Homo sapiens: one gene and its partners. The protein of the gene in region 2 interacts with the protein of the main gene of each other region in a biochemical or structural test. Each region holds a gene or a part of one and is shown on either strand. Other genes may lie near its edges. The genes, in order: RNF14, TAGLN and USP1.

Region 1 (6,926 bases), on a different chromosome or scaffold from region 2:
GGGAGATTCCATCTCAAATAAATAAATAAATAAGTTATTTGATAGCTTATTTTCATTTATCAGCTCTAGACCCAAACCTTTTATATAAAAATGAAGAGACACTGACTATTCAAACTCCCCCAAAAACACCCAGGAGGCCAGGCACTGTGGCTCATGCCTGTAAATCCCAACACTTTGGCAGGCTGAGGCAGGAGCATTACTTGAGCTCAGGAGTTCACAACCTGGGCAATATAGCGAGACCTTATTTCTACTAAAAAGAAAAAAAAAAAATTAGCTGGGCATGGTGCTATGTGCCTGCAGTCGCAGCTACTCAGGAGGCTGAGGTGGGAGGATTGCTTGAGACCAGATCTCAAGGCTGCCGTGAGCTATGATCGCACCACTGCACTCCAGCCTGGGTGACAGTGAGACCCTGTCTCAAAAAGAAAAAAGGCCCATGAAATTCATACTAATTTATGGCAAATCTCAACCCACTCATAAAAAAAGGCTTTCATGAAATTAAGGTAGGTACAAAACTCTTTATTCTATCATATATTTTGCTGACACCACAACCTTCCACAAACCCATTTGTTTTACAGGGCATTTGGGGAGTTACCCAAATCTTTCATTTTACTGAGACAAAAGTACTCTACCAAAACTATACATCTTAAAATTAGCTCATAACTCATGCTTCAAAAGTATAACTTTATAAGCCCTATTTTCTTTGTTAAAATTGAGTGATGAAGACTTTGTACCTAAGAATCACTAAGGTGACCAAACAAATTTTTGAGACTAAACACCAAATACCTGTGTTGTTTTTAATATCATAAATGGGAAAAAAGGCTCCCATTTCTTTCATAAAACTGTATTATAAAGGCTTCTTTCCTACTTCTATGACATCATCAACAATGTATAACAGCTTAACATAAAATGATCTCTAGAAAATATCAAGTAGCTCACGAACTATAGAGCTTCTGAGTAGCTCTTTCTGAATAAATCTGAATTGAACTCTTTGATCACAGAAATCACTCTTCTCAGGTATATACTGTAGAACAAATCATTTTAATTTCCATTTCTTATCTTTAATTTATTCTTTAACCTCAATTTTTTTTTTTTTTTTTTTTGAGAAGGAGTCTCGCTCTGTCGCTCAGGCTGGAGTGCAGTGGCGCTATCTCGGCTCACTGCAAGCTCCACCTCCCAGGTTCATGCCATTCTCCTGCCTCAGCCTCCTGAGTAGCTGGGACTACAGGCGCCTGCCACCATGCCCAGCTAATTTTTTGTATTTTTAGTAGAGACGGGGTTTCACCGTGTTAGCCATGATGGTCTCGAACTCCTGACCTCGTGATCCGCCCGCCTAGGCCTCCCAAAGTGCTGGGATTACAGGCGTGAGCCACTGTGCCCAGCAAATTAACCTCAATTTTTACACAAAATGTCCTGAATGGAAGACCATGAAACTATCTGGTTTAAACAAAATATGGGCCCTAAAACCTAAGCTCAGTCACAAGCCCAGGTAAAAGAGATGCTATTCTGTGACCTTTTTTTTCTTACTTTAAGAATATGTTATATGCCGAACAGTTTTAAAATGTGATTAGTTGCCTTGGTGACAGAACAAATAGCAGCAACTCTGTTCTAATTATAAGATGATTTTTAAATTTATTTTTATTTTAAGACTAAGCATCCTCTTTGACAATCCAAAAACATAATCCTTGCTCACTCTGGACACACACACCTAAAACAGTTAAAAGTGATTCCTCAATTTGCAATAACAAAGTAGGAAAAAAAGAATACGTTCTCAAGCTGTAGTTCAATTTTTCTGTCCTCTTTTCCAAAAAATGTTACTTTGCTACCAAGCCTCCCACCAATGATAAGGAAAGACAATTTTTCAAAAAGCCAACAAAACCCAGAAAAAGGAACAGGTATCAATTCAAAATTATCACCCAGAACACTGCTGTTGCAAAGAAAGAGTATGAAGCCAAATTCCCATAGCTTGTTAGAGAAGATCTTTAAAAATAATTCAGAAAGTTAGGACTGGAACTACTGTAGTATAGACAGGTTATACTGTCACTATATGCATATACAGTGGTAAATGCAGATATAATTCAAGAACATTCAGCTTGGGAATATATTAAGCTTTCTCCTATTCCAGCAGAGGAAATAAAAACATGTGTTCCTGGAATTAATATTAAAATCATCCTTACAAACAGAAGGTAGGGCAAAGGTAAAGAGAGAGAATGTGGAACAAAAGTAGCAAAGACAAGCCATTTTGAATCTAGGTTCTAACACCCAGGAAGGCTGAATAGAACTTAAATTCTTCTGAGCCAGTATCACTAAATTCTAGATTTGGCCTGAAACCAGTGGACCATATACACCACTAATAAATATCAAGTGCCCCACAGTGTTTGTGGTATTAAAACATATATTTATATTATAAATTTCCATTCTGAAAAGCAGATCAAAATGACACTGGACCATCCAGTCAGTTACGGAGTAATGGGCTTCCTCCAAAGAGAACTGACTTGGCAGAAATTTAGGTTGGTAGGAATGTGATTAACATGGAGTAAACGAGATCAGGTTCTCAGTATAATTTTCATAAGGCTTCTACCCACTCCAGTTGTAAGGAATAGTACTGAGGGAACTCCAACAGAATGTCTTAGAAGGATGCTTCTCAGAGACAAAGGGTCTCTAAGTTTAACTCTTGACCCCTCTTCTCCTTACCTAAAGCTTGGGGAAGAAAATAAATATTTAATTTTTAACTATTCAGAGCTTTGGGCACATTATAATATTTAATATTCTGTAGTTTAATTTTCTGAACCTTTGGCTTATAAATTTTTCTCAACTTACATTTAAAAATGTATCAATGCACCTTCTTCAGTAGTACCACATGAAAATATAAACCTCGTTCTTCCATATCTTCTACGCAGGAAGAGTGAATGAATAGTACCCTAAATATCCCGCAAAGTTACTTTGTGTACTTGACGGAAGATTAGGGAAAAACAATCCACTTCCATATCTTGAGCAGTAGTTAACTAGTCTTCTACCTCATCTTCCCAAATATCGTCGTCAACATCCACAGCATAAAACAGCCTGGAAGCATTAAAAAAGGTACATTTTTATACACTTGAACGAAACAATATAAATTGCCTCTCCGCTGAAAAATATTTTTTGTACTCTTATAACATCTTTGTACATCTTTTCTTCTCCTTTAATCATTGCACTGAGGAGGGCTGAAATATGGGTCCCTCTGAACAATCTACCCTAAAGTTAGTTAAGAATGGCCCATTTAAGGTGGATGAGTACTTGTCCAGCTCCATTCCCACTGGCCTAGAAGATTTAATTGGCTGTCTTTTGGCCTTAAGTCCCTTGGCCATAGGGGTCCCACTGAGGGCCTAGATGGAGGCGAGGCAGGTTAGCCACACCACTCCAGCAATGATATGGGACAAAATAAGTTTGACCATCAATGCTGCCTCTGGCAAATCTCAGCCAAAAAGGGGAAAATGAGAAATAAAAATGATACCCTAAGCCCCACAACCAACTGAACAGACCCTCTCCTGGCCAAGGGAACCCCAGAGAAACCCTGAAAACAGTTCCCGGCCATGATGGGATGGGAGGCCAGACACACCTGGTCATACCCCCCTCCCTCACTGACCACCATTAGGCTTTCTTTCCCTAAGGGTTCAAACCAACCCTTTGGGAAGACTTGCTCCACCGCTGATATCAACCAACTGCCTGATGCTGCCCCTCCCTTCTGCAGTTTTGGCACAAAAACCGACCAGCATTTCTTCCTGCCAATAGACCACTGACCATGGAGTGGTTCTAGCCAGTCTATGGAGGATGTGGACTGAGGTTTTCGTGTTCTCTGCTTCACCTTTTGATATCAGAGAACTCCCCCAGAGATCATGCTAATGCCACCATTTTTTGAACATGGGTCCCCTGAAGGGTAATGAAGCTCAACTGCACATGCAGCGTTTTTCTCCTTTCATAAATATTCATGACTCCTCCTATACCTTACTGAATATGTATATCTGGCTATCTTGTAGGGCATAAATCCCTGTCTTCCTCTTCCCATCCTTAGAGTGTCTGTTTCCAGCTTCTGGCTGAAGGCTATGCTTCCCAACCTGTCATAACAGCCACCTTGCCGGCTTCAACTCTTTATGAGAAATAAAGCTCTCCTTTCCAAATTAAAACAAACGAACAAAACAGTCCTTTTAGAATCCAGACAAATTCTCCAGGGCCAAGGATAAACAATAATGAGGGATAGGTATCACAAAACTGATACTCAGCGTATACAATACATGGAATAAGGCAAGACTGGGGAAGTCAGGCAATTTAAACTGAACCCTTTCAAGACACTATTATTACTACTACATGCTCATCACTCCATTCTATCTTCACAGTCCTTGCACCCTCCATTTGTAGAATGTTTTGTAGCTGTCAATTTGTCTTCCTTTCCTTATGTTATCTACAACTTATGCAATTTCCAACACTAGATTTCCAATAGTTCATGGCAGGGCTTGTTTCTTCAATTTCTCTTACAGTTTCACAATACCAATGTGTTTACTTAACAGACACCTCTTAACAAAGATCATCAACTGATGCTGAAAGTGGAGAGCTCTTGGAGAACAGGATATTCACATTGTGCCAAGGAATCACCCCACAGATTACTTCCTAATAACAAAATGGAAAACTTGCCTTTACAATAAAGCAAACTGTAGAAATGAGCACCACACTAATGAGGGACATCATGGACCTCTTGATGTGATCCAATACGGAATACACATCACTCCTCATGAAGTATCAGCATAAAAAATGTTATTCTAAATCGAATCAAGCTTCAGTCTAGACCTAACTTCCAGTTTATAGCAAATAAGAGAAACAAGCTAAAGGACACCATGGACAAATAAAAGTCTAGAAGGTAAGACGTTATATAAGATAACTGACCTGGACTCTTCAAAAAGTGAATGTTTTGCTGGGTGTGGTGGCTCACGCCTGTAATCCCAGCACTTTGGGAGGCCGAGGCGGGCAGCTCACGAGGTCAGGAGATCGAGACCATCCTGGCTAACACGGTGAAACCCCGTCTCTACTAAAAATACAAAAAAATTAGCCGGGCGTGGTGGCAGGCGCCTGTAGTCCCAGCTACTCAGGAGGCTGAGGCAGAATGGCATGAACCCGGGAGGCGGAGCTTGCAGTGAGCCGAGACGGCACCACTGCACTCCAGCCTGGGCGACAGAGCGAGACTCTGACTCAACAAAAAAAAAAGTGAATGTTCACAAAACACACACAAAAAAAAGGTGGGCCAAAGCTTTTCTGTATTAAGAGACTAAAGAGATAGAACCAAATACAATGACTGAACTTGTTCAGATTCTGGTTCAATCAAATAGCTTTAAAAGATATTTTCAGAAATAATTAGGAAGTTTCAAATATGTTTGTTTACTAGATAATAGTATGCCACTATCATTAAGTTTTTTAAAAGTACTGTCATTATGTAGAAGCATTTCCTTATCTTAGGAGAAACGTGGAAATATTTAGAGTTGAAGCATTATCATAACTCCAACTTCATGTAGTTCAGTAAAAATGTTAAGGGAACAAATATGGCAAAGTACTATCAACTGTTAATTTGGGTGGAAAGTATCCTACTATTCATAGTCCTATCCTTTCAAATTTTCTGTGTTTGAAAACTTTCACTATAAAAACTTCCAGATGGTGTATAAGTCTCATTATAAAACTCATTTTTGAGAAAATAATATGAAAATTCCTTTATAGGGGAAAACATGTAAGAGAATTCTCTAAATAAGTCCAAGTACTTAAATAAAACACTGGATTTGTGGTCTGCAAATCAAGTACCAAAAATTGCTGGTGAGCCTGAGGAATTCTGTGTATACATACCGGTTAAAACATGGTGAACCAGGGTCATTGAAATGTTTGTAAGGGTTTGCTCTAGAGAGAGAACCCATGCAAATCCAACAGAAATATTGCATACAGCCAGTACATGTCATCTTGTTACATCCGTCTAATTTCTGGTGGGAAGGATAGAAAGAGAAAAATATCAAGGCTGTAAAAGCAGAAGAGACAGCACATGCCAAAATGATTCAGTACAACATTGTCTTGGTCCTCTCCCTTTTCTTATGCAGGGTTGAGATATCAATGTAACACACTGATGACTATGTAATTCTTTCTATTTTGCATTAGAAGTAAAATACAGAAAATAGCTAGTGTTACTACAATTAGTTACTTGGCACAATCTCTTCTGACAAGCAGTAGATAAAAATCACACAAGTATAACTGGAAAATGTAGTTAGATTAATATTAAAATGTTTGGATGTAACGTGTGGGTTTTTAATTTTTACAGAAATCTAAGTAAATATTTGGTACCAAGTCCTCCACTCTGTCATAGGGCTAAGGTATGTCAAAAGTGATTATATGGCCAGGTGTGGTGGCTCATGCCTGTAATCCCAGCACTTTGGGAAGCCAAGGTGGGCGAGTCATTTGAGGTCAGGAGTTCGAGACCAGCCTGGCCAACATGGTGAAACCCTGTCTCTACTAAAAATACAAAAATTAGCCAGGTGTGGTGGCTGGCGCCTGTAATCCCAGCTACTCGGGAGGCTGAGGCATGAAAATTCCTTGAACCTGGGAGGCGGGGATTGCAGTTAGCTGAGATTGCACTACCGCACTCCAGCCTGGGCAAGAGAGACTCAGTATCAAAAAAAAAAAAAAAAAAGTGATTACATATAGTCCTAGTTTCCTTAACTGGAGCCCACTATGTTCAGTTCAGACATAACAGATTAGAACAATAGAATCAAATGCTAAGATGTATTTTGATTTTAAAACATATTAAGATTTTTGTCAAGAAGCAATATATCTGTCTAATTATTTTGACTCAAATTAATTCCTGAGTGTATCTTAAACAGGTGTGCAGCATTCCAGGATAAATAGTTCTGAGAGATCAGATTTGA
Region 2 (9,349 bases):
TTCTTCCAGGGACTCAGCACCTGGCAGGTGAGCACTCACCCTCAGGCTCCTTGTGAGCCAACAAGTGGCCAGTCCTCTTTTTAAACATTGGGGCTGAGCCTGGGATTACCTGTAATCCCAGCACTTTGGGAAGCTGAGGCAGGAGGATCACTTGAGGCGTTCAAGACCAGCCTGGGCAATATAGTAAGAACCCGTCTCTACAAAAAATAAAAAAATAAAAATAAAAAAATTAGCCTGGCGTGGTGGTATTCACCAGTAGTCCTAGCTACCTCGGAAGCGGAGGCAAGAAGATAGCCTGTGCAGGAGTTCCAGGCTGCAGTGAGCCAAGATTGCACCATTGCACTCTAGCCTGGACGATAGGCCATGTCTCTAAAAAAAAAATTTTAAACATCATTTGGGAACACCTACCATAGGCCAGCACTTTCATAGCGGCTTCCCCAGTTAATCCTCCTAGCATTCCAGCCTGGAGATAGCTCCAGTTTACTTACGAGACAGATGAGGCTCAGAGAGGCCAAGTGACTTCCCCAGGGCACATAGCCAGTGAGTGGCACAGCTGGCATTTGAAGCCAGCAAGGCTTGGCTCTCTTCTCTGCCTTGCAGGACACCTACCACATGTCAGGCTTTAATTCTGGGAATAGAACTAAGTCTGACATGGTCTCTGAGGGACTCATAAACTAGCCGAAGAGGGCTAGAAGGACTGTTGGTGCATGACTGTTAGTGCTGTTTACGATGTGATACATGAAATGAAGGGCACAGGCAAGACGGGGCAGGAGGACAGAGGACTAACGGGTCTCTCCGAGTTAGGAGTCCAGGAAAGCTTCCTGGAAAAAGTGCGCCTTGTTCTGGGCTATAAAAGTCTTGGGTGAGGAGGGCTGGGCACGGTGGCTCACGCCTGTAATCCCAGCACTTTGGGAGGCCGAAGCGGGTGGATCACGAGGTCAAGAGATTGAGACCATCCTGGCCAACATGGTGAAACCCCATCTCTAGTAAAAATACAAAAGTTAGCTGGGCGTGATGGTGGGCGCCTGTAGTCCCAGCTACTCGGGAGGCAGAGGCAGGAGAACGGCTTGGACCCGGGAGGTGGAGGTTGCAGTGAGCTGAGATCTCTCCACTGCACTCCAGCCTGTCAACAGAGCAAGACTCTGTCTCAAAAAAAAAAAAAAAAAAAAAAAAAAAAAGTCTTGGGTAATGGAGAAGAGCCCCATGGCCCAGACCTACTGTGACCTTAGTAATGATACAGGGGCAGATTTGGAGGTCAGTGAATGCACTCATTTGGGAGCCAGGCAGACTGTGAGCTCCCTGAGGGTGGGGCAGGTCTTGGTTATGTCTGTGGCCTCAGCATGTAGCACAGACAGACACAGCCTGGATGAGCTTATGGGATAGAGCTTATGAGTAGAGCAGGGAGGACCTTGAGTGCCACAGGTTATGGCTACTGTCCCGGAGCAGGTGTGTAACCTGACAGTAGTGCTTTGGAAAAAACAATGAGCCTGCAGAAAGATTAGAGCAAGGGCGGAGTCCAAGGCCGGGAAGTGGGTGAGAAGGCCTTCTGCCATCTCTGAGCTGAAGGCCTTCAAGGTTGTTGCAACCCTGTGCTCTTAGGTCAAGGGAAGAGAATCAGAAGGAAGGAGGAGGGTAAGAGTGAAAGAAAAGGGAAGAGAAGCCAGTGAACTCAGGGAGAAGTTTGTAACCAAAGGCCATTTGTTAGATCGGGAAGGGGTAGGGACAAGGACAAGGGACAGGTCAGAATTGCTGCTGTCCTGCCTGGGGCTGGAGAGAGGGGTGCCCAGGAGCAAGATGGCAGATGGGTCTGGCCCTTGCCCTGCCAGAGCAGGGTCATTCGGCAGTTTTTCTTGTTGCTCCCCAAGAAAACCCCTGCAGAGTCGAGGGAGCACAACCGGGACTGCATCCTCCTCGACTTCTTTGACGACCACGACATCTGGCACTTCCTCTCCTCCATCGCCATGTTCGGGTCCTTCCTGGTAAGCGGGCCTCCCGGCCGAGCCGGGTGGGTACGTGAAGGTAGCAGCTGCCTCCTTCTCTGTGGCTGATCTGGCGTCCACACCCCAGGTGTTGCTGACACTGGATGACGACCTGGATACTGTGCAGCGGGACAAGATCTATGTCTTCTAGCAGGAGCTGGGCCCTTCGCTTCACCTCAAGGGGCCCTGAGCTCCTTTGTGTCATAGACCGGTCACTCTGTCGTGCTGTGGGGATGAGTCCCAGCACCGCTGCCCAGCACTGGATGGCAGCAGGACAGCCAGGTCTAGCTTAGGCTTGGCCTGGGACAGCCATGGGGTGGCATGGAACCTTGCAGCTGCCCTCTGCCGAGGAGCAGGCCTGCTCCCCTGGAACCCCCAGATGTTGGCCAAATTGCTGCTTTCTTCTCAGTGTTGGGGCCTTCCATGGGCCCCTGTCCTTTGGCTCTCCATTTGTCCCTTTGCAAGAGGAAGGATGGAAGGGACACCCTCCCCATTTCATGCCTTGCATTTTGCCCGTCCTCCTCCCCACAATGCCCCAGCCTGGGACCTAAGGCCTCTTTTTCCTCCCATACTCCCACTCCAGGGCCTAGTCTGGGGCCTGAATCTCTGTCCTGTATCAGGGCCCCAGTTCTCTTTGGGCTGTCCCTGGCTGCCATCACTGCCCATTCCAGTCAGCCAGGATGGATGGGGGTATGAGATTTTGGGGGTTGGCCAGCTGGTGCCAGACTTTTGGTGCTAAGGCCTGCAAGGGGCCTGGGGCAGTGCGTATTCTCTTCCCTCTGACCTGTGCTCAGGGCTGGCTCTTTAGCAATGCGCTCAGCCCAATTTGAGAACCGCCTTCTGATTCAAGAGGCTGAATTCAGAGGTCACCTCTTCATCCCATCAGCTCCCAGACTGATGCCAGCACCAGGACTGGAGGGAGAAGCGCCTCACCCCTTCCCTTCCTTCTTTCCAGGCCCTTAGTCTTGCCAAACCCCAGCTGGTGGCCTTTCAGTGCCATTGACACTGCCCAAGAATGTCCAGGGGCAAAGGAGGGATGATACAGAGTTCAGCCCGTTCTGCCTCCACAGCTGTGGGCACCCCAGTGCCTACCTTAGAAAGGGGCTTCAGGAAGGGATGTGCTGTTTCCCTCTACGTGCCCAGTCCTAGCCTCGCTCTAGGACCCAGGGCTGGCTTCTAAGTTTCCGTCCAGTCTTCAGGCAAGTTCTGTGTTAGTCATGCACACACATACCTATGAAACCTTGGAGTTTACAAAGAATTGCCCCAGCTCTGGGCACCCTGGCCACCCTGGTCCTTGGATCCCCTTCGTCCCACCTGGTCCACCCCAGATGCTGAGGATGGGGGAGCTCAGGCGGGGCCTCTGCTTTGGGGATGGGAATGTGTTTTTCTCCCAAACTTGTTTTTATAGCTCTGCTTGAAGGGCTGGGAGATGAGGTGGGTCTGGATCTTTTCTCAGAGCGTCTCCATGCTATGGTTGCATTTCCGTTTTCTATGAATGAATTTGCATTCAATAAACAACCAGACTCAGTTCTTGGGGCCCTTGTTTGCACTCCCTCTGGGTGGAGCTGTTGAGGATGAGGGGAGAGGCGGAGGTCTTCCATTTCCCCATTCTTCAAGCCATGGCCCTACTGGGAACTGCAATTCCTTGATTCTCCCGTTTTTCCTGTCCCTCCAGCAACAGCATTAATTCAGTAAACATTTACCGGGGCACTGTGCTGGACAGAGGCCAGTTCCTGGAAAAGCCTTTCCCACGCCATCCCACTGCAGACATCCCTCCTTACCTCCCCAGGAACAGCAGTCTCTGCCCACCTGGCCCCGCCCACCAGACTGAGGCTCACTTCACCTCTGACCTGAGCGGCCCCCAGCTCACCAAGCCACAGGCCCAAGCAGTGCTCCCTGATGCGGCGTTTATAATCCGCTCAGCGTGCAGGCCGAGGCAGGAGGGTGATGAAAGCTGGGCAGGCTCCAAGAGGAGGGAGTTTTGATATGTCCCTGAAAGATTCATTTAGACTTCAGTCGGCTAAGGAGGACATGATTTGGGGGCCAAGGAATCTGTTGAATTCAGAACACAACCAGAGGTCTGCAGGGTCAGGGATGGAGGAGTGGGCTTTCCCCTCGCCAGGGCCCACTCCTCTTCCTGCTTTTCCTGCAGGCGCCACTGGGAGGTGCTATGGCTGTGCCTCCCCTGGGCTCTGGAGCATGTCCAGTTGCAGTGGGCAGAACTGCGGAGGCGGGCCCCTCCTCTGCCAGGCCTGGCAGCCCCCTCCTAGGGCCTTGTTTGGCTAGGGGTGGTGCCGGGTGTGGCAGTGTGTGTGTAGTGGAGAGTGTTAGGTCTTCCCTACCAGATGCCCTTGCAGGGGAGTGCCACAGCAGTCAGTCCAGGGATCCCACTGTTAGTCTCACCTTTTTTAACCTCTTATCTCTCCCCAAGATCCCTGAAGCCAGGTACGAGCAAGATGAGAGTGGGTTATCTCTGGAGTGACAGAGGCTGGTCTGTTTTCCAGGCTGGTAGGGACTGTTCCTAAAGGGAGGAAGGGATGATACCAGCCTCCTGAGCCTCCTTCTCCTGCGTTAGTGTCTCAGGCCCTGCCAGGCCTTATAGACCCTCTTATTGACACTGCCCACTGGATGGGGACCGGAGTTGGACTCAGCTTCTGCCGAACCCTCAAATCCCAGCCCCAACTAAAGCATATAACTCAAGACCTACCTGCACTGAAAGCTCTTCTCAACCTGAGCAGGGTGGTCCAATTGAAAGGGTGGGTCTGACCACCTCTCCTGCACCCATGCGGGTTGGCAGAGGTGTGCAGGATCTGCCACTTACCATTCACCATGTGGCCTTGAGGAAGACGCACTCGGGGCCTCAGTTTCCTCATCTATAAAATGGGGATGTAATTACACCCTCACACTGTAGCTGTGAGTATTCAATGAGAGCACTGCAAAGGGCCTGGTGTGGAGTAGGTCCTCAGGAAAGGTTGGATCCCATGTCCCATCAGAGCTAAAAGCCCCAGGAGGAGAGGGTGGCTGGTTTGTCCCCACAAACCCCTGGGATTCCCGGCTCCCCAGCCCCTTGCCCCTCTCTCCAGCCAGACTCTATTGAACTCCCCCTCTTCTCAAACTCGGGGCCAGAGAACAGTGAAGTAGGAGCAGCCGTAAGTCCGGGCAGGGTCCTGTCCATAAAAGGCTTTTCCCGGGCCGGCTCCCCGCCGGCAGCGTGCCCCGCCCCGGCCCGCTCCATCTCCAAAGCATGCAGAGAATGTCTCGGCAGCCCCGGTAGACTGCTCCAACTTGGTGTCTTTCCCCAAATATGGAGCCTGTGTGGAGTCACTGGGGGAGCCGGGGGTGGGGAGCGGAGCCGGCTTCCTCTAGCAGGGAGGGGGCCGAGGAGCGAGCCAGTGGGGGAGGCTGACATCACCACGGCGGCAGCCCTTTAAACCCCTCACCCAGCCAGCGCCCCATCCTGTCTGTCCGAACCCAGACACAAGTCTTCACTCCTTCCTGCGAGCCCTGAGGAAGCCTTGTGAGTGCATTGGCTGGGGCTTGGAGGGAAGTTGGGCTGGAGCTGGACAGGAGCAGTGGGTGCATTTCAGGCAGGCTCTCCTGAGGTCCCAGGCGCCAGCTCCAGCTCCCTGGCTAGGGAAACCCACCCTCTCAGTCAGCATGGGGGCCCAAGCTCCAGGCAGGGTGGGCTGGATCACTAGCGTCCTGGATCTCTCTCAGACTGGGCAGCCCCGGGCTCATTGAAATGCCCCGGATGACTTGGCTAGTGCAGAGGAATTGATGGAAACCACCGGGGTGAGAGGGAGGCTCCCCATCTCAGCCAGCCACATCCACAAGGTGTGTGTAAGGGTGCAGGCGCCGGCCGGTTAGGCCAAGGCTCTACTGTCTGTTGCCCCTCCAGGAGAACTTCCAAGGAGGTGAGGAGTGTGTGAACGCACCTGTGTTGGAGCACGGTGTCCCACTCTGGCGGGTCCCCAGGGCCTGAGCAGCAGCGATAGCCCTGTGACAATGTGAAGGGCCACAGAACTCTTGTATTCCAGTCAGGGGCAAAGAGTGGAGACGGAAGGCCTGTCCTTCTGACAAGCAGCCCCTTCCACTGTCTGACAGTGGGAGGTCACCCCCACTGTAGCAGAGGGGTGGGGGGCGGGTACTGCCAAGGAGGAGCTTTGGAGTGATAGGCGGGGCAGGCCTGGGACCCTTGGTCTTTCCCAAAGGGTGGTTCCCTTTCGAAGTTGCTATTCCAAAGGTAGCAGTGAGGATGGCACACATTTATGTAGCCAGGCCACTCCTGTTTGTCCGTGGAGTGGAGAGGAGCCACCCTCCTGCCCTCTCAGAGGTCCAGGTGTGCTCACTCCTATTTGGGAAGAGAGAAGGGGCACAGCAGCCCTGCAGGGGCCCCTGGCTCTGCTCGTGTTTCTGGGCTTCTGCTGGTAGGGGGTGCCACCTTCCCGTTTGACCCTGGACTTTCTTTCTCCACTGCCCACTTTCACCCACTGGGCAGCTCAGGGGAGGGGTCCTGGCAGGAGCCACAGGGCAGGAGGGTCCATGCCTGTCCATGCTGTCCTGGGAGTGTCTTGAGATGCCCCTGGGGGGGCCGCCCTGTAATCATCCTCCTCTCCCCCTCCCCACTGGCTCGAAGGCAGGACTCGGGAGGCTTCATCAGAGGACTCTAAAGGATTTCTGGGGATTCTCCACTTTTCGACCCTGACCCAGGAGGAGGAAGGGGAAGGATGGTGGTGCTGGGTGGGAGTGGGGATGGTGTGTGCTTCATCCCCCTCTGACCGAAATCCTAATCTTGTCTCTAGATCTGGGGGCTGCAGCGTTGTGTACCTGTCACCCTTAGCCTTGCTGCTTTGACCTGTATTGTCTGTTCTGACCCTCCTGAGACTGGAAGCTGGGGGTAGGGGACACACTCTCCTTCCATCCTGTTCCTCAGGAGCCCAGCAGGGGTGCAGAAGGGGAAGGCAGACATGAGGGCAGGTGGAGTGGGGGTAGAAGCAGGGCCAGAGACAGAAGGTGGATGCCTGTCTGGGATGGTGGTGCAAAGGCTGAGACAGAGGCTGGGGTGGATGGAAGCCAGGATGCAGGGCTACCAAAATCACCTGGTCCCAGCTGACTTGGGGGTTTGGACCACAGTTCTTTGTGCAGGAGTCCTTGGGTGGTTGGGGAGCGGGGGTGGGACACACAGGGTGAAGGGAGGGATTGGCTGTTTGTAGCTGAACAGCAGAACAGAGCACTCTGCCTTTGGGGTCTCTGGCATCACTGGCAGGGAGAGGGGTGGCTGGGCCAGGAGCCCACCTCATCCCCAGTGCTCAGAGAACTGGGTCCTCAGAAGTGGTCCTGCCCCCACTTTACACATAAGGAAACAGACGCAAGGAGGAGAGGGATGCCCAATGACGGGCACTTCGATGAGTCCGTGTGAACTCTGTTCCGTGTGAGCTGCTGCGCGCTCAGGGAATGATTGTGAGAAGCGGGTGGAGGCTGGAGTGGGCAGCAAAGAACTGACATTTTGAGGTCAGTTTTTCACTCCTTGGTCAAGGGCAGGCTCTCTCCCTGGTCATTACCAGGAGCCTGGCTCCGGGCAGCAAAGAACTGACATTTCGAGGAGCTCTGCTAAGGGCCAGGCAGTATGTGAGGGAGTTCACAGACACCGTCCCATTTTCACAGCCCTCTGAGGTTGGTAACATAACCCCCACTTCACAGATGAGGAACTCCAGCCCAGAAAGCCTGTCAGCCCTGAGAAAGGAAGGGCAGGGCATCGGGCTGGGCAGCTGGCCTGGGACCAGTGGGGTGTGATAGTGTTGGCTCTGCTTCCCGCGGGTGGGGTGCCAGTGGGGAGGGGTCTCACCAGAGAGGGAGCCGGGGGAGTGCGCTCCTGCGTCCATCCTCAGACCAGCGTGTCCCTCCCAACCTCTGACCCCTCTGAGGCCAGGGGATGGGTTCGGCTTCCTTTGGTACCTCTTTTGGAAGTCTCTTCAGACAAACACTGGAGAGAAGGCACAGCACCCTAGGGTGACATCAGTGGACAGGTCAGTTTCCTGTTCCTGTTCCCAGCCACCCCTGTCTGTCTGCCCAGGGACCTACCTGCCTGGCCCACTCCTGCTGCCACCCCTCTCCATGAGTGGGACTCCTGAGCAGTGCCAGGCCCAGGCCCTCAGGGTGGCAGTTGCTGGATGGGGCCAGGCTTCCCATTCCCTGGCAGGCAGACTCTTGGCTCTGGAAGATCCCTGGGGGACTCTGACTTCTTGGTTACTCAGGCTACTCCGTAAGGGTAGCCTTACGAGAGCGTAAGGGCATGAGGGGAAGTCGATGGGTAGACCAGGTGTCTCTGATTTCTCTGAGGAAATGCAGCTTCTTTGCCAAGAACTCTTGGGCTTTGGTGGCTTCGTCGCCCTTGCCTGGGGTGGGCGAGTTTTAGTCTCTTCAGCTGCAGACCAGAAGCTGAGCTGACCTGAAAAGAGCTGGAGTTCTGGAGTTCGGGCTTCCAGGCCAGGGCCTGCTTCTGGGTGAGAGTGGGAGGTAATGGTTGCTTGAGGCAGAGGCAGTAAACCCTCACACCCGCAGCTGGACAAAGGCACCAGCTGGCTGTATTCTGTGGGGGCAATGTGGCTTCTGGAAGGTCTCTCCAGTGGCTCTGTAGCTGGTCTTGGCAAAGAATGTTCTAGACCAAGGGTTGTCAAACTACAGCTCATGGGCCAAATCCAGCCTGCTGTCTGCTTTTGTAAGTAAAGTTTTATTGGAACAAAGCCATGTTCATTTGTTACATATTGTCTATGGCTGCTTTCACACTGCAACAGCAGAGACCATGTGTCCTGCAAAGCCTAAAATATGTTCTGTCTTATCCTTTACAAAAACAGTTTACTGACCCCTGCTCTAGACCTCCAAAGACCTGGTATCCTCTTTCCTGGTGTTCAAGTTCAGAGAGGTGTCTGGAGTAGGGGCTGAGCCTGGCCTGGATGGGCAGTGCTGTGACAAGTGTCTAGGATGGCCGGGTATCCTGCACAGAGCTAGAAGGCTGCCTGGCACGGGTGAAAGCAGAGCTGCTCCCTGACCCTCTGCCCCTCCCTCCTCCACCCTGGCCTGCTTTAGCTTTCCCCAGACATGGCCAACAAGGGTCCTTCCTATGGCATGAGCCGCGAAGTGCAGTCCAAAATCGAGAAGAAGTATGACGAGGAGCTGGAGGAGCGGCTGGTGGAGTGGATCATAGTGCAGTGTGGCCCTGATGTGGGCCGCCCAGACCGTGGGCGCTTGGGCTTCCAGGTCTGGCTGAAGAATGGCGTGGTGAGTGGCACCCTGGGCTAGGGCGCTGGGGGGCTGGGGTGTGCCACCCTGTGAGTCCTGGGCCAATCCCTGAGCTGACTGCTAAGCTGCGT
Region 3 (7,494 bases), on a different chromosome or scaffold from region 2:
ACCAGCCTCAGCCTCCCAATGTGCTGGGATTACAGGCGTGAGCCACCGCGCCCAGCCTACTGCGATTTTTTTTTAATTGAGAAGGTACTCCTTGTTGAAATGGGGTATTAAAGTGTTACCCCAATAGCATTTACATATTTAGAATCATTTCTAGGAAAAACTTAGTACCAAGAATGTCCATTAACAAGTCATGAAATCATTCATCACTTACCACTTCAGTATACTAGTTTAAAATGAAATTTTAACCAAGTTTTTATGTGTGCCCAAAGCATCATCTTAACTTTTCCAGTTTTGGATTCCATTAAATCATGTCTACTTTAAAGGACAATTAGATGCAACAGATTTCATTATAAACCTCTTTTAAGTATGACAGCTTGGCTGGACTAAGCACAATTTCTCCTCTTTGAAAAACTCCTGCACTGTCAGAAAGTATTCAGTAATAAAGGTAATTATGCATGCTTATTCTCTCATATATATACATATATATATACACACACTTATTCGCTTTAAGAAAACTCAGCTGTATTTATAAAAATATACAAGTAAAAAATTCAAATATTCATATACATAGTTAAGCAGTTTAAATTTTATTGACCTCCCAGTTTTTAAAAAAAGTTAAATTTAAGGTCACACCTCTAAGTTTGATGTACTATATACAGATCGTGCAGAATATGAGTTAAACAGATACAAATTAGTCCATGCCCAAAAAGATATACTAGGGTACAGAATCATCTTCATAAATACATATAAAATTCTTGTGTAGAAGCGAACTGTCCAGGTTTTCTGAGACACTTCTAAGTGAATCAAGGCACAAAATGTACATACACCATTGTGAATACACACATTCTAGACTTTGTGCCTCTGACATAGCCCAAGGATTTAGCTTCATGACTCTTATAAAACTAAATGTACTGAATGAGATTCTGCTTCTTGGGTGAAAAACCACAGGAACTATAAACATCATGTAGATAATTACTCCAAAATATGGAGAATACAAATACGAGCACTTTATTTTAAAAAGCAAACACAAAAGACTGGTGTAAATCCAAGTGTTTAAATGCCTCCGTTTTGGATAATTTAATTAAGAACCGATACAAGTTTGTTCCCAGAAGCTAATGCATCACTAGTCTCTACTGAGGAAAATGAGTTCTAAAAATTAACATGGTTTTCAGTAATTCAAATTTCACTATTTATATAAAAACCTAGAGAGACCAATAATATCCAGTAGCTTCAAAAGATAAGCTAAAGATTCTTTGATGTAATCAACTTTACCAATGTTTGTATGGGTGTGTTTAATATATACACAAGGAAAATACACTCACTCTATAATTTCTTATAAAATAGCAAGTAAGGAGTAGAAGTAGGAGATGTAGAAGGGGAAAGAGAATTCAGAAAGTCCTTCTCTTCAGTAACTTTGACTTCAGAATCATCAAAAAGCAACCACTTCCCCTCATACTCCTTTAAGCTTTGCACTACGTATGAAATTTTGTTCTCAAATCCACTAATATTAATGCCTGTTTGGTCACTGGATTCCTTGTTTCTATCAGATTCATGGGTCCCAGTAGTATCACTAGTCTCAGAATTTCTATTTTCAGCAAACGCTGTACTAGCAACCTTATCAGGATTAGAGGCTTTGTTGTATAGCTCATAATCTGCTTTGCTCTTTTGTCCTCCAAGAAGTCCAATAGCTTCTACATTTTTTTTGTTCAAAACTTTACTTGGCTGTGTATTTCCACCAACTCTAATTGACACTTCTTCATCATTATAATTCTCAACCACACCCCTTGCTTCCTCCTCATTCAATGGTTCTGGCTTACCTATTTCACACATTTGGTCAACCACAAAATTTCCTTTATCTAGTTCTAAACTGTTAAGGTCAGTGACTTTAACAGAAGCAGTGTAATGCCCACTACTAATTGTAATGCCACTATGCATCACAACCGCAAATAATCCATAGCTGTCGTTAGTTGGCTTTGTGCTCCATTCTTCTAGTGACAATTTAAGAGGTGTCAATAAAGGAGTGTTGATCTTGGAAAGTCCACCACCATAACAATCAAACCTTTGGGAGGAAAAAAAGAAAAGGTTTCCTGCAGTTCTATTTTAAATTCAAAATGTTATACCCCAATCTGAAACCAAGTAAAAATCTGAATGAACCCTTAATATCCAGTGTTCATATATCAGAAAAGCAGAATCAAAACAAGACCCCAACTTTGAATAATATTTATAATATATGCAGAAACAAAAAAATAAATAACTGCTAATATTCAGGCATTTCTGTGGAAGAAATAATTGTATTTTTTCCTTTATTTTCCTAATTTTGTGCAGTTAAGAAAATAAATGGTATTTTAAATAGACTGAACCGGAACCAAAAATGTTACGTTTTGGGTTTTTTTTTTTTTAAGGCAGGGTCTGTCACCCAGGCTGACTGCAGTGGTGCAATCATGGCTCCTTCTGGACTCAAGTGATCCTCCCACCTCAGGCTCCTCCTCCTCAGCCTCCTGAGTAGTTGGGACCACAAGTGCCCGCCACCACGCCAAACTAGTTTGTGTATTTTTTGTAGAGATAGGGTTTTGTCATGTTGCCCAGGCTGGTCTTGAACTCCTGGGTGCAAGCCATCCATCTCAGCCTCCCAAAGTGCTAGGATTACAGGTGTGAGCCACCCACGCCCAGCCCATTTTAGTCATTTTTAGTGTGAAGTTTTTCTCTACCAAAATTTGGGAAAGTAAATAAAATAGTATTTTATACTATTAGCAAAGGGAAGGTCCACTGAATAAGGGGCTATATGTTATCTTTTGACATAATCAAGTGTGAGAGAGCTACTGTGAAGCCCTCGTGGTAATTTCAAACAAGCAACTAATGTACAAAGGAGTCACACATACAATGACATTACACATGTCAGAAAAAAACAGACTATCCAAAACAATCAGCATTTTTTTTCAAACTGTTGAAAGACTAGTTTGATTTCCTGGCTTACCTTAAAACTAGGAAGAATTTAGCCTTTCCCGCCCCTTCAAAAAAATCTTGATGTATACAAAATTTGTTCCCTGCTTTAGTCAGTTCTACTGAATTCTGCTACTAACATCTAAGAGGGAATGAATATGAAAAGATGAATAAAGAAACTGGCCGGGCATGGTGGCTCACGCCTGTAATCCCAGCACTTTGTGAGGCTAAGGCAGGTGGATTGCTTGAGTCCAGAAGTTCAAGATCAGACTGGGCAACATGGTGAAATCCTGTCTCTACTAAAAATACAAAAAATTAGCTGGGCATGGTGGCATGCACCTGTAGTCCCAGCTACTCAGAAGGCTGAGGTGGGAGAACCACCTGAGCCTGGGAGGTCAAGACTGCAGTGAGCTGAGGCTGTGCCACTACACTCCAGCCTGGACAACTGGAATGAGACCCTGTTTCAAAAAAAAAAGGAGAAGAAATCATACTTAATAGAATATGTATTCATATCAAAAGGATTTAAGTTGTTTCATTTTTACAGGGAAACTGTTAATAAGAACAAAACTTTACTGAAGCAATCTTTACAATCTACTTCATTTCAGTACTTTATATTCCTACTATTACAGCATTTTGAACAAGACTTATCTTCTACAGCAGCTCATTTTCTTCATATAGTTCTTATTTACAATACTTACTCCAAACCACTAGCAGCAAAGCACTTCAAATGAATAGTTATAACTTCAGGCATTTTGTCAAACAAAAGACTTCGTTCAGCTTCAGTATAATGATGGCAGTTTTCACAGAAATATTTATCTTCTCCTACAATCCTTTCTACTGAAGCAAATTGTGAAATTGCCCATCTCAGGGTCTTCATTTCTGTTTTTGGCTCTGGAGAAACTAAAAAAGAGAATCCTTTCACTCAAATACTTCTCTCAGGCATTCAAAAAATAAACCACAAAGTTTCAGGTTCAAAATTAGCATTTAATTTCAATTGACCGACCCATTCCTAAATAACTAAAGAGATTTTTACTTTCAGAAACTACTTTCATAAGTGCATCCTCAACAGTATACATACCTTTTAAATATATTTGATCGGCCAAAAAATATGATAGACAGCAAAAACAAAATAAGCCTAGTCTGTTTACATTTAATTGCCAACTTTCAATATGTGATAGGTAAACCTGTCTCATGATTATTTCCTATGGTATTTCCATATTTTGTGGTATGCTCTAGACACAACAGTGGCTCAATTATTGTGTTAAAAACAACCTCAGTAGGCCAGGCGCGGTGGCTCACGCCTGTAATCCCAGCACTTTGGGAGGCCAAGGCGGGCGGATCACGAGGTCAGGAGATTGAGACCATCCTGGCTAACATGGTGAAACCCCGTCTCTACTAAAAATACAAAAAATTAGCCGGGCGTGGTGGTGGGCACCTGCAGTCCCAGCTACTCAGGAGGCTGAGGCAGGAGAATGGCATGAACCCAGAAGGCGGAGCTTGCAGTGAGCCGAGATCACGCCACTGCACTCCAGCCTGGGCAACCGAGCAAGACTCCATCTCAAAAAAATTAAAAAAAACCCTCAGTAGCTCTGAAAGACTCAGGTTCCCAAAAGTACACTTATTAAAGCATTTCAGTTTTCCATTCTAACACACTCTACATCAAAATCAAGATGTCACAATTTCCCAAATGCTAACCATTTATAAGTGAAGCCAGATAAGCAGAAAGGTTACATTAGACACTAAAAGCTAGCTTTTTTCCCCTCCCTAATTACACCAGCTACTATTAAACTTTGTGTTGTTAAAGAATTATAAATATTCCATCATGGTCCACACAAGACTCCAATTTTGCTTACTTTCAGAACTCTCCTCTACTTTGGAAAGCTCATCTTCTTGTACTGGCACACTGATGTCTTGAAAATCTTCTCTTCTTTCTGTTAAACTTTCACATTCCAAGCAACGCGTCCTTAATACCAGCTGACCTTGAAATAATTTCTCCACTAGCTCAAAACCAATTTGTTCTTCACCTAAAATGAAAATAGGAAAATGTAAGTCTATACAGATTAGTTTCTCATTATAGTCCAAATAACCAATTTTCCATTTAAATAAAGTATATCATGAATAACAGTTCCATTTTCATAGATCAGCTTATTAGCATTATTAGCTTATTAGAGGTACCCTATTAATGAAATTTAAGGTCCCTGTAAAGATAAAACTGACTATGAAATTACTGTCTTTAAAAGAAGTCAGTTGTAGGCCGGGCACAGTGGCTTAAGCCTGTAATCCCAAGACTTTGGGAGGCTGAGGCGGGCAGATCACCTGAGGTCGGAGTTCAAGACCAGCCTGACCAACATGGAGAAACCCTGTCTCCAGTAAAAATACAAAATTAGCCGGGTGTGGTGGTGCATGCCTGTAATCACAGCTACTCGGGAGGCTGAGGCAGGAGGATCGCTTGAACCCGGGAGGTGGAGGTTGCAGTGAGCCAAGATCATGCCATTGCACTCTAGCCTGGGCAACAAGAGCAAAACTCTGTCTCCAAAAAAATAAAAAAAATAAAAAATAAAAAAAAGTCAGTTGTATTGTAACTCCCTTCCTACAGACACCTCCCCATAGAATAAACCCAGAATAAGGATGACATTTTTGGTAAAACTATTCACTATATCAATATTACACATTTTCCCTGATATCTGTAGATCTGGACAAAACTAGGTAAAAATCTAGTTCAAGTATCGTGTAACTTACAGTTATGCACCACCTACCAACGTTTCAATTATTTAACAATGGACCGCATATGACAGTAGTCTATGATTATTTTTACTGTACCTATGTTTACATATCTATGCTTAGATACGTCTTAGATACACAAATACCATTGTGCTACAGTTGCCTACAGTATTCAGTAGTTATATGCTATACAGGTTTGTTGCCTAGGAGCAATAGGCCATGCAAAGCTTGCCTGTAGCCCGTAACAAATTCATAAACTTTCTTAAAACATTATGAGACTTTTTTGATTTTTTTTTTTTTGGCTCATCAGCTATCATTAGTGTATTCTGTGTGGTGTGGCCCAAGACACTTCTTCCAGTGTGGCCCAAGGAAGCCAAAAGATTAGATACCCTGGTCTATACCATATAGGCTAGTTGTGTAGTACGCTCTAGCATCTAGTTGTGTAAGTACACCGTGAAATTCACACAATGAAACAGCACATTTCTCAGAACATATCCCTGTTGTTAAGCAACACATGACTGTACTTAGTCTTTACTTTTAAAATTTCACTAAATGCAATGTCCTTCATCAGTTTATGTCAAACACTGCATAAAGGGAAATGTACTCTTAAATGTACATTAAAATATACTGAACTTCCCTACTTTATTATTATTTGTTTTTTTTTGAGACGGAGTCTTGCTCTGTCGCCCCAGGCTGGAGTGCAGTGGCATAATATTGGCTCACTGCAACCTCCACCTCCCGGGTTCAGGCGATTCTCCTGCCTCAGCCTCTCAAGTAGCTGGGACTACAGGCGTGCGCCACCATGCCTGGCTAATTTTTGCATTTTTAGTAGAGACGGGGTTTCACCATGTTGACCAGGCTGCTCTTGAACTCCTGACCGCAGGTGATCTGCCCGCCTAGGCCTCCCAAAGTACTGGGATTGCAGGTGCGAGCTAACATACCTGGCCGAACTTCCCTACTTTATAAGCTATAAATTAAAATTACTTTAATGACATTACACACACACACACACACATATATATGCATACAATATATACACACACACTAATCTAAGCATAGCACTTAAAACACCATAGTTCACATTCAGTGTTAAATTTCCTTCTCTTGAAACAATTTTAGCCAGAGATTATATTGTACATGTATCTAGGAAGAGAAAATTCTAATTCTGTAGCTGCTAATGCTTCTACCTATCAAAGTCTAAGAATTATACTAACCTTTGTTTATGGGTTTAACTTCATTAACATTTACAGGTGTAACAGTATTTCCTGGAGATTCAAGTCCACAACCATTAGTTGTGTTATCACTTTCACACTTCCCCAAGTCCTCTTCAGGATCACATTCATTTTCTTTAGATTGTCCTTTGACTCCTTGGTTTGTTGTTATTTTTCCCAGACTACAAAATTTAGAAAGAATGCTGGGTTGCTTAGTTGCAGACTTTAACCAATTTATTTTAACTCTTGATTTCTTTTGTGAGGGTCTTGGACTCTCATTTTCAGAAATATACTTGGGAATTATTTTAGGAGGACTCTCTAATGTATCACTTGTAGCTTTTCTTTTTGATCTAGTTTGTCTCTGGTTCTCTTCCAATGACTGGTGTTCCTTGGATAATTTAACTTTTTTCTTCATGTTACCAAATTCAGTGTCACTTTTTCTTTTCCCATTTCCTTTTGGGAGTTTCTCTTTAAAGTCTTCAGAATGCCTCATACTGTCCATCTCTATGCTGTTAATACCATTCATTTCCTCTTTCGGATGAGGTATTTCTTCTACCTTAGTAGGTAATTCTGCCACATTTTTTACTTCTTCTTTTTTTAGGAGTTGGCATGTTTCTTGAAT

The links.
Region 1: the proteins of TAGLN (region 2) and RNF14 form a complex in vitro, tested with the Homo sapiens proteins (one study listed by BioGRID).
Region 3: the proteins of TAGLN (region 2) and USP1 form a complex in vitro, tested with the Homo sapiens proteins (one study listed by BioGRID).

The regions. Positions count from the first base shown.
Region 1 is NC_000005.10:141,983,867-141,990,792, reverse strand, and holds the end of RNF14 (E3 ubiquitin-protein ligase RNF14), read right to left. Parts: intron 5,991-6,926; coding exon 5,860-5,990; intron 3,061-5,859; coding exon 3,003-3,060; 3' UTR 501-3,002; downstream 1-500. UniProt on the Homo sapiens protein: E3 ubiquitin-protein ligase that plays a key role in the RNF14-RNF25 translation quality control pathway, a pathway that takes place when a ribosome has stalled during translation, and which promotes ubiquitination and degradation of translation factors on stalled ribosomes.
Region 2 is NC_000011.10:117,193,937-117,203,285, forward strand, and holds the start of TAGLN (transgelin), read left to right. Parts: upstream 1-5,433; 5' UTR 5,434-5,496; exon of another isoform or gene 5,497-5,893; intron 5,894-5,914; exon of another isoform or gene 5,915-5,976; intron 5,977-7,824; exon of another isoform or gene 7,825-7,978; intron 7,979-9,065; 5' UTR 9,066-9,077; coding exon 9,078-9,257; intron 9,258-9,349. Other genes in the region: SIDT2 (SID1 transmembrane family member 2 precursor), read left to right, coding at 1-27, 1,866-1,979, 2,068-2,130. UniProt on the Homo sapiens protein: Actin cross-linking/gelling protein. Involved in calcium interactions and contractile properties of the cell that may contribute to replicative senescence.
Region 3 is NC_000001.11:62,444,811-62,452,304, reverse strand, and holds the end of USP1 (ubiquitin carboxyl-terminal hydrolase 1), read right to left. Parts: coding exon 6,876-7,494; intron 4,965-6,875; coding exon 4,794-4,964; intron 3,841-4,793; coding exon 3,639-3,840; intron 2,060-3,638; coding exon 1,324-2,059; 3' UTR 501-1,323; downstream 1-500. UniProt on the Homo sapiens protein: Negative regulator of DNA damage repair which specifically deubiquitinates monoubiquitinated FANCD2. Also involved in PCNA-mediated translesion synthesis (TLS) by deubiquitinating monoubiquitinated PCNA.